Regions from separate parts of the Homo sapiens genome. Here region 2 is linked to region 1. The links come from fine-mapping of genetic effects on gene expression. A gene starts in region 1. The other region holds a variant in brackets. All regions are shown on one strand. Distances are from middle to middle. Region 1 holds the start of FKRP (fukutin related protein). Region 2 has its middle 17 kb from the start of SLC1A5.

The links.
Region 2: its variant is fine-mapped to the expression of FKRP in hippocampus (GTEx, PIP 0.95).

The regions. Positions count from the first base shown.
Region 1 is chr19:46,742,978-46,748,349 of GRCh38, reverse strand. FKRP (fukutin related protein) reads right to left here and starts at 2,293. Exons shown (of 4, transcript NM_024301.5): 1 at 2,260-2,293; 2 at 262-323. It overlaps STRN4 (striatin 4), which reads left to right and starts at 1,900. Exons shown (of 18, transcript NM_013403.3): 1 at 1,900-2,201. The coding sequence starts at 1,920. RefSeq lists silencers at 1,475-1,524, 1,565-1,664, 1,705-1,854, 1,865-1,914, 2,125-2,354.
Region 2 is chr19:46,803,375-46,808,746 of GRCh38, reverse strand. No RefSeq gene overlaps it. Among named protein-coding and RNA genes, the nearest start is that of SLC1A5, 17 kb to the right of the region's middle. The variant G/C (reference allele first, on the strand shown) is at 3,009.

The sequences.
Region 1 (5,372 bases):
AAAAATTAGCCGGGCGTGGTGGCAGGTGCCTGTAATCCCAGCTACTCGGGAGGCTGAGGCAGGAGAATCGCTTGAACCAGGGAGGTGGAGGTTGCAGTGAGCCATGACCGCGCCACTGCATTTCAGCCCGGGCAACAGAGCGACACTCCGTCTCAAAAAAGAAAGAAAGAAAAAGAAAAAAATGAGAGACATGGGAAAGCCTTAAGGAATGAGGAAGGGCAGTTTCCATGAGAGTGTAGGTGACACTGAGGGACTTCTTACCTCCTAGGTTGTAGGCTGGGGGAGTTCCAGGAGGGCAGTTCCAGCCCAGCTGAGCTGCGCTCCTGAGAGGAGGAGAACCAGAAAATCCCAAATCAGCCATTTCCGTACAATAGAGCACAATTTCATCTTATCCACAAAAGTGGCAAGAGAAAGGTCAGGGAATCCTTTCTCTTGAAGTCCTATAATCTCGGGCACCACCTGGGGTGTCTCAGGAGTGGGGTGGGGTGAATGGGAGGGATGTCAGTTATTATAGCAACCTATAACCATCCCTCTAGCATGAATGTGTCCAGAAAAGGTAGGGCTAGAAGCCAACAGAAGCTGTTACCATGACAACCCCTTCCATAGACACACTCTACCTCTGAGAGACATTCTTAAAACATCCCCTGGCCGGGCGTGATGGCTCACACCTGTAATCCCAGCACTTTGGGAGGCCGAGGCGGGCCTGAGGCAGATCACCTGAGGTCGGGAGTTCAAGACCAGCGTGACCAACATGGAGAAACCCCGTCTTTACTAAAAATAAAAAAAAAATTAGCCGGGCGTGGTGGCGCATGCCTGTAATCCCAGCTACTTGGGAGGGTGAGGCAGGAGAACGGCTTGAACCGGGGAGGCGGAGGTTGTGGTGAGCCGAGATTGGGCCATTGCATCCCAGCCTGGGCAACAAGAGTTACACTCTGTCTCAAAAAAAAAAAAAAAAAAAAAAATCCCCTCCTTTGTTGGGCTTGGTTCCTAGGGTCACTCGAAGGGGGCTGCTCTATTATCATAGTAACCAGGCCTTGAACTTGCCTGTTTCTCACCTTCCGGAGGAAGGTCCAGGCCCTGTAACCATAGCAACTGCCCCTCAGCAGAGCATCTCCTCTAAATAAAAACACCTGGTTAGTTTGGTGCATGGGCCTCCCACGATGGGAAGGGGAAGACGGTTACCATGGTAATGCCAACTAGGTGGCTATGGGGGAGGGGCTGGGGAAGAGGTGCTTCTCTTAGAGATCAGTGTCCTTGGGGCTGGGGTCCTTTCTACCTGAATGCTAGGTGGGGGGGAGGTTGCCATAGTAATCAATGAGGATAGGAGCAGAAGGACCACCACGGACACTTAGGTTACCTTAGCAACCTTCTCCTGGTGCAGAGTCCTAAGAGGTTTGGGGCTCCATAACCACAAAGGTGGAAGCGAGGGGAAGGCTGCTCCCCACCACCTCGCCCCCACCGCTGGGGAAGGGTTACCATGACAACCAACCTGGCCGGCAATCAGAGAGGATGGGGCCACTGCTGGTCGCCCTTTCTCTCAGAGTAAAAGTAATTGTCCAGGAGAGTGGTGTTTGGGTGTGGAAGGGGTAAGGCTCTTTCTCTGGGGCGAAGTGGGAGGAGGGGGGCAGAAAGCGGCCCCTTCCTCAGTCTCACTCCAGCGAGGGGGACCGTCGCGCGGGGCCTGGGTCTCCCTCGCCCTCCTCGGGGCGCGATCTCCCACCCGCCGGCCCCCGCGCGGGCACGCTACCCTTCGGTGTAGACCCGGGTGGGCGAGGCTCGCGCTCGCCGCCGGCCCCCCTTCCTACTGTCCCCCGCCGGGCGCGCGCGCGGTGGTTGCGGCGGGGGAGGGGGGGGGGTGTTGGCGCGGCCGCGCAGGCGCGCGAGGCACAGCGGGCGCGCAGGCCGGCCCCGGGGCCTCCATGATGGAGGAGCGAGCGGCCGCCGCGGTCGCCGCCGCCGCCTCCTCCTGCCGTCCGCTCGGCTCAGGCGCGGGCCCTGGCCCCACTGGGGCGGCCCCGGTCTCCGCCCCTGCCCCCGGGCCGGGCCCGGCAGGTAAGGGAGGCGGCGGCGGAGGCAGCCCCGGGCCCACGGCGGGCCCGGAGCCCCTGAGCCTGCCGGGGATCCTGCACTTTATCCAGCACGAGTGGGCGCGCTTCGAAGCCGAGAAAGCCCGCTGGGAGGCCGAGCGCGCCGAGTTACAGGTGAGCGCTGTCCCGGGACCCCCGACCCCCAACCCGGCCCGGCCCGGCCCGGCCTCACCCGCTGCCGCCGCCGCCGCCATCTTGGAGCAATGGCCGCCGGGACGGCCGGCGGGGGGGCGGGAGGGGACCGCGACGGTCCCGGAGGGCGAGTGAGGGGCCGTCCGAGGGGTGTCCTGAGGGCACTCCGGGGTGGGACGGGACCGGGACGGCCCGAGGTGGGAGTGGAGGGACCGGGGGTGGGAGGGATCACCGGGACCGGCCGAGAGAAAGGGGCGGAGGGACCACAACCAGCTGGGAGTGGGACTGGGACTGGGACTGAGCACGCTGGCCGCGGGGCTCCTGAGAGAGGCGACTCGAGCCCTGGAGGGGAGGCTAAGAGAACTCGGGAAAGGGTGTGGAGAGGAGCTGGAGGGGTCTGGGAGACCTGAGTGGTCTCCTGTGGGAGTAAGCAGAAGCTTGCCGGGCGCCGAGGGACTCCCGACCCCGACCCCGACCATGGCCCTAGCCAGGTGCAGGTTGGAGGTGGGAGCGTCCAAGGGGGGAACTTGGGACCCGCTGGGAAAGAGCGGGTCCAGATGGGGAACCGGGAGGATTTAGGGAGAGGAAGTCGGGAACCTGGGATCGGTGTGTTTCGGGGCGACTGGACGGTGGGCACGGAAGGAGGGCTGTGTAAGGACCCGAGGGGTGGGAGGAGGGTTTCAAGGGGTCCAGGATGAAGGTGTGTGCCTTCCCCTCTGAGGAGAAACTTTGGGGATCCCGGGCATGTGTGGCTGCACAGTGCAGGGAAGGGTTCTTTGGAGTGGAAGTGTGGACAGAGCAGGGAATGTACCCTAGGAGCCTGGATGGGAGAGCTTAAGAGTGGAAGTTCCACTTTGGGGGTGTGCAGGAGTGGGCGCGATGGCACTGAGATGGCACGTGTGTTGTAGGATGTAGGTAGAGAGCCCTGAACTGGAGTGTGGGGTGTTGGGCATGTCCAGTATGGAGGTGAGGGTCCTGGGATGGTGCCAATGAGGACGAGTTAGGGGTTACCCTGGGGTGATGCTTTAGGGGGGAGAATTTTGTAGAGCCCGAAGGCAACATGAGGAGGCATCTCGGAACGGGGGTAGACTGGGGTTGGGGGGAAGGGGATATGTTTGTGGAAGTCTTGGGAAAAGACCCCGTGGTTTTTGGGGTAGCTTGGGACAGGGATGTTGAATGGAAGAGTCTGAGGAGTTGGGCTAGGGTTTGTGACCTCGTGGAGCGTCAGGTCCATTGGCAGTGACTGGAGGACCATGGAGATGTCCGGATTTGAAGGGATCAGGAATGGCCCGCTGGAAGTCTGAAGATTCTTGGACTGGGTTATTATTAGCAGAAATTGTCATTACCTGCTTGTAGCAGCCCACCTTTCCCCTTCCGATTTGCCGTTTGCTATCTAGTAGGAAGCTGGTACCCAAATAAATAGCTGATGAGAATTGTGTCGGTAGGGATGGGGTGCGGTGGCTCACGCCTGTAATCCCAACACTTGGGGAGGTTGAGGTGGGAGAATCCCTTGAGCCCAGGAGTTCGAGGCCAGCCTGGCCAACATAGCAAGACCTCATCTCTACAAAAAAGTACAAAAATTAGCCGGGTGTGGTGACATGCGCCTGTAGTCCCAGCTACTCAGGAGGCTGAGGTGGGAGGATTGCTTAAACCCCGGAGGTTGAGGCTGCGGTGAGCCATGATTGCACCACTGCACTCCAGCCTGGGCAAAAGAGTGAGATCCTGTCTCAAAAAAAAGCATTTTGTTCATAGGATGAGTAAAGACCCTCCAGTAACTCTCCCCCTGCCCTCACTTGTGGTGGCTGAGGCTTGGGGCTGGGATGGGAGCAGAATCCTTATGTAACTGCTCTCACTTCTGTCCCACTCTCTACTTCCGAAGCTCTTTCCCAGCATACATCTCATCAGATCTTCACAATGCCCTGTGATGTAGGCAGAGGCAGTGTCATTACCTCACTCAGCAATAACGGTACCAGCTGCAATTTAGTGAGCACATACCATGTCTGGGGCGCTGTATCAAGTACTGTAGATACGAGCTGTCATTTAATTCTTGCAGCATTCTGGGAGGATAAAGGATATTCCCCCTACCTTTAAAAAAAATCAGGAGAGGAAATGGAGGTTTTGAGAGGGTGATTTATCTAGGATCCCAGCAGATGAGCAGAAGGGCTGGTCTGTGGTGGACCTTTTGTTTATTTATTTATTTATTTATTTATTTTTATTTTTATTTTTTTGAGACAGAGTCTCACTCTGTCACCCAGGGTGGAGTGCAGTGGCATGATCTTGGCTCATTGCAACCACTGCCTCCCAGGTTCAAGCGATTCTCCTGCCTCAGCCTCGCAAGTAGCTGGGATTACAGGTGTGCACCACCACCACGCCTGGCTGATTTTTGTATTTTTAGTAGAGATGGGGTTTTGCCACGTTGGTCAGGCTGGTTTCGAACTCCTGGCCTCAAGAGATCCACCTGCCTCGGCCTCCCAAAGTGCTGGGATTACAGGCATAAGCCACCATGCCCGACCGTCGGTAGACTTTTAAGCCCATGTTCTGTACCTCTCTGCTACCCAGTACAGTTGAGAAAATTGGTTCAGGCAAGCATAGTGGCCTCCCCAGGGTCACCCAAGCAGTCATAGCAGAGCTTGGACTGAATCTTGGCCTCTGGGACTTTGCACCAGTGCACCGCACAGCACCCACCACACCATCTTCTCATCCTGGAGGCTGATGAGAGAAAAGATGTTTATCCCCTCACTTACTGACCCTTCTTGGAGTTTGAGAGGAACTTGTGTCTGGCATGGTACCAGCACTGTCACTTTGTACTTTTGTTTTCTTTTATTCTGTTAAGTTAGTAAAAATTCAGACATCTCAGAGGGGTGTGTGTGTGTGTGTGAGTGTGTGTATACACATATATATGTAAGTGAAAAAGGAAAGTTCCTTCTCTTCGTCCCTTTCCTGCTCTTCTCTCCTGAGAGAGAAGAGTTATTGTGCTTATGTAATAGATGAACTACTGCTGTATGTATCATTTTGTGACATAATAATCTGTTTTGGTTTTCCTTTCATATCAGCACAGAGAACTCTTTCTTTTTGATAGCTGCATAGCGTCCCACGGGATGTTTGCACCATAGCTGATTGAGTTTGACCCTGGTTGGTGGACTTTTAGATTTT
Region 2 (5,372 bases), 60 kb before region 1:
TGACAGAGTGAGACCCTGTCTCAAAAAATAAATAAATAAATAAATAAATAAATAAATAAATAAATAAATAAAATTAAAATTAAGGGAGTGAGCAGTGTAGAACCTTCCAGGCCATTTTCCAAAAGTTGGCTTTTGCTTTCTCTTCTTGAAGATCCATTTGTGTCTCAATGTGTGCTGTGCCCAGTTCTCAAGAGCAGATTGCTACACTTTTGGGAATTTCACAAACCAGTTGTTAAACATAGGTATTATTAACAATTAAATGATACAAAGTTACAGATAAATAAATTATGTTAAAAACAAATATAATAAATAGTTCAAATGCATTGCATCCTAATTGCTACATTTTTACTATTATCTATGCTCTCCAGGCTACTTATCTCTGCCTGGTGGAAATCCTGAGTGATAGTGGGTGGTTGCTTGTCTCTTCTGAATTCCACATCCAATGACATCCTATCAGTAACTAGAAATCAACCACAGTGGGAATATTTACACTGTAGAAATTGGCAAATGGTATAAATTAGGGCTGTTTCTTCCCTAGAGAGCTGGTGGTTAAATTAAAAAAAAAAAAAATATATATATATATATATTGGCTGGGCGCAGTGGCTCACGCCTGTAATCCCAGCACTTTGGGAGGCTGAGGCAGGCAGATCATGAGGTCGGGAGATCGAGACCATCCTGGCTAACATGGTGAAACCCCATCTCTATTAAAAATACAAAAAATTAGCTGGGCGTGGTGGCGGGCACCTGTAGGCCCAGCTACTCGGGAGGCTGAGGCAGGAGAATGGGGTGAACCTGGGAGGCAGAGCTTGCAGTGAGCTGAGATCATGCCACTGCACTCCAGCCTGGGCGACAGAGCGAGACTCCGTCTCAAAAAAAAAAAATTATGTATATATACACACACACACATATGTGTATATATATATATACACACACACACATATGTGTATATATATATATACACACATATATACATATGTGTATATACATACACATACACACATATGTGTGTGTGTATATATATATACACACACATACATACATATATATATATGGATGATTTTGCTCTGTTACTCAGGCTGGAGTGCAGTGGTGCAATCAGAGTTTACTGCAGCCTCGACCTCCTGGGCTCAAGCGATCCTCCCTCTTCAGCCTCCTGAGTAGCTGGGACTATAGGCACGTGCCACCACACCCAGCTAATTTTTGTATTTTCTTTGAGACAGAGTCCAGCTCTGTCGCCCAGGTTGGATGCAATGGTGTGATCTCAGCTCATTGCAACCTTCACCTCTTAGGTTCAAGTGATTTTCATGCTGCAGCCTCCCAAACAGCTCGGAATACAGGCACGTACCACCACACCTGGCTAAGTTTTGTATTTTTAGTAGAGACAGCGTTTTGCCACATTGGCCAGGCTGGTCTTGAACTCCTGGCCTCAAGTGATCTGCCCACCTTGGCCTCCCAAAGTGTTGGGATTACAGGCATAAGCCACCACACCCAGACAAATTTTTGTATTTTTTTGTAGAGACAGGGTTCTTGCTATGTTGCCCAGGCTGGTCTCAAACTCCTGGGCTCAAGCCCTTCTCCCACCTAGGCCCCCCAAAATGCTGGAAGTACACCATGCCCGGCCTGGTTAAGTATTTACCAGCACGCCAGTGCAATGCCTGTAAACGTGGCTCATTCTTTTCTACAGCTGTCTAGTGTTCCATAGCATGAATGGCCACAACATATTTTGCTGGTTCCTTCCTGGTATGTGCTTAGTTTGCTTCTAGTCTTTTGCTACTGCAAGCAGGGCTGTGGTGATTTTTCGCATGCAAGACAATAGCCGTGGAATAAATCCCTCAGAGAAGAACTGCTGTGTCAAAGGGTGTGGGAGGATCTAAAATTAAGGCCTTTTGCCTAATGGCTTTCCAGGGAGGCCGTACCAACTTCCACACCCACCAGCAAATGTGTGAGAGTGCAGAAGCTTCTAAACACAAACTTGATTGTGTCACTCTGCTGCTTAGACCCTTTGATGTTCCCCACTGATCCTGCATGAAGCCCTTCTCCCTTCAAGATACGATCCGGTGTTGGCCGGGTGCGGTGGCTCACACCTGTAATCCCAGCACTTTGGGAGGCAGAGGCAGGTGGATCACCTGAGGTCAGGAGTTCAAGACCAGCCTGGCCAAAATGGTGAAACCCTGTCTCTACTAAAAATATAAAAATTAGCCAGGTGTGGTGGCAGGCACCTGTAATCCCAGCTACTCAGGAGGCTGAGCTCAAGAATCGCATGAACCCGGGAGGTGGAGACTGCAGTGAGCTGAGCTCTTACCACTATACTCCAGCCTGGGCAACAGAGTGAGACTCCATCTCAAAAAAAATAAATAAAATGAAATTTAAAAAATGGCCAGGCGTGGTGGCTCACACCTGTAATCCCAGCACTTCGGGAGGCTGAGGTGGGTGGATCACCAGGTCAGGAGATCGAGACCATCCTGTCTAACACAGTGAAACCCCGTCTCTACTAAAAATACAAAAAATTAGCCAGGCGTGGTGGCGGGTGCCTGTAGTCCCAGCTACTCGGGAGGCTGAGGCAGGAGAATTGCTTGAACCCGGGAGGCGGAGGTTGTAGTGAGCCAAGATTCACCACTGCACTCTAGCCTGGGCAACAGAGCGAGACGCTGTCTCAGAAAAAAAAAAAAAAAAAAGAGTAAATTAAGCTATGATACGGGGTTGGAAAATTACAGCAATCTGGGAACAAAAGGAAGACAGTACTGGTGCCTCAGTTCCCCAGCTTAATTTTCCCTTTGACCTAGTGAATTCGGGGTCCTGAGATTCTACTTTGCTTTCACAATAGTCACGGCTTCTCCCTTTCTCTTGCAACTGAAAGGTGGCACCATGACCTCACCATGACCCCTTATAAATTTTGCATGGCAGCCACCCCGATGATCTGCTGTCTGTCCCCTGGAATGGGTCGTGTTCCTACTCACTTTTACACGGTCCCGCCTTTCCCCCTTCCATGAACCCTACTTCCCATTGCC[G/C]TATCAGTGGGCTGAATCCACTTGTCCCTTCCCTGGGTACGTTTGGTCTCTTTCTGTTTCAAGTGGCTGAAAACCTGATTGTAACTCTTCAGCGACATCAGGAATCGATGGGCTGGCTTCAGGCATAGCTGGCTCCAGGAGTTTGAACGCTGCCATGAGGCCCAGCACCTGGCCTGTCACTTTTGTCCTCTTCCACGTTATCACCTTCAACAGTGCATGCCTCTGTCAGGCTGTGTGTGTGTGTGTGTGTGTGTGTGTGTGTGTGTGTGTGTGTGTGTGTGTTTTGAGACAGGGTCTCACTCCAACACCTAGGCTGAAGTATAGTGTTGCAATCACAGCTCACTGCAGCATTGACTTCCCAGGCTCAGCTTCCCGAGTAGCTGGTACACAGCTACTATATTTTTTGTAGAGATGGGGTTTCGTCATGTTGCCCAGGCTGTTCTCAAACTCCTGGGCTCAAGCAATCCACCCTGCATAGCCTCCCAAAGTGCTGAGATTACAGCTATACTCAGGAGGCCGAGGCGGAAGAATTGCTTGAGCCCAGGAGTTCAAGGTTGCAGTGAGCTATGATCATGCCACTGCATCCCAGCCTGGGTGACAGAACGAGATCTTGTCCCTAAAAAAAAATTAAAAATTTTAAAATAATCATAAAAAAGAGAAAGAAAAAAATGTGACTCTCTCAATTAAGCTGTGAGACCTTGGCCAAGTCACATCACCTGTCTGTACCTCTGTTTACTCAGCTATAAAATGAGGATATTAATAGGACCCATTGGTTTGCTGAGAAGCTGTACCTCTGGGCTATAGTAAATGTTCGATAAACATTAGTTGTGGAGTCCTAATTCGGGAAAAGGAATCAGGCTGGCAGGACCAGGGGAAAGCGAAAAGATAAAGCAAATAAGTTTTTTTTTTTTCTGGTGAAACCCTGTCTCTACTAAAGATACAAAAATTAGCCGGGTGTGGTGGCATGTGCCCATAGTCCCAGCTACTCGAGAGTCTGAGGCAGGAGAATCGCTTGAACTTGGGAGGTAGAGGTTGCAGTGAGCCAAGATGGCACCACTGCACTCCAGCCTGGGCAACAGAGCAAGACTCCATCACAAACAAACTAATCTATCTATCTATCATCTATCTATCTATCTATCTATCTATCTATCTATCTATCTATCTATCTGTATGTGTGTATTGGTGGTGCACACCTGTAGTCCCAGGTACTCGGGAGGCTGAGATGGGAGGATGACTTGAGCTCAGGAGTTAGAGGCTGCAGTGAGCTATGATCTCACCACCACACTCCAGTCTGGGTGACAGAGTGAGACCTTGTCCCTTAAATAAAAATAATAATAGTAAAGTTTTTTGTTTTTTAATTGGCATTCGGGCCGGGGGCAGTGGCTCACACCTGTAATCCCAGGTGTGAAGCGTTCCATATTAAAATATATATATACAAAATTAGCCAGGCATGGTTGGTGGATGCCTGTAAATCCCAGTTACTCGGGAGGCCAAGACACAAGAATTGCTTGAACCTGGGAGGCAAAGGTTGCAGTGAGCCGAGATTGCGCCACTGCACTCCGGCCTGGGTGACAGAGTGAGACTCCATCTCAAAATAATAATAATAATAATAATAATAATAATAATAATAATAATAATAAATTGGCCCTTGGAAGAAAGCAGTTGTGTGGAATGTGTGTTGCTGATTTTCTCAGGCCATATGAGGCCCCCCACCACGGGGCTTTGGTGGTTGGAAGCATAAAGTTCCCAGGTCCTGGCCTCTCTCCTGGCTGTTTCATTCATTGGCTGTGGGACTTTGAGACATGGTTGCCTTGTCTGTGTCAGGATGGGATTAGCCTCCTCGGTTTCATGGGCCTCACTGGAGCCTCAGGTGTGCTTCTCACTGGAGCCCCTTTGCCCTGCCCCTCCCACCCCCAAAATGCCAGGGCTCTTCAGCTCTGGGAGGACTTTGTCCAGTTCCTGTTAATCAGCACCTACACTGCTCCTCACTCTGGGCTAAAGTGCAAATTCTAACACCTCTCAAATCCAGGCCCCAGGCCTCACACTTCTCTCAGAAAGGAGAAGTGGAGGTGGGACCTTTCATTAGCTAGTTTATTCAAGGGATGTCTAGGCCCAGGCGTCTGAGCTGGTAGCAGTGCCTCCCAGACTCAAAATGTCCTGGTCCTTCAGGCCAACTGCCCTCAGGGGTGACACCCACATAATCACTAGGAATGTGCTGTGTGATTGTATACTCTCAGAATTGGCTTTTTTTTTTTTTTTTTTTGAGAGGGAGTCTTACTCTGTTGCCCAGACTGGAGTGCAGTGGCACAATCTCGGCTCACTGCAACCTCTGCCTCCCGGGTTCCAGAGATTCTCCTGCCTCAG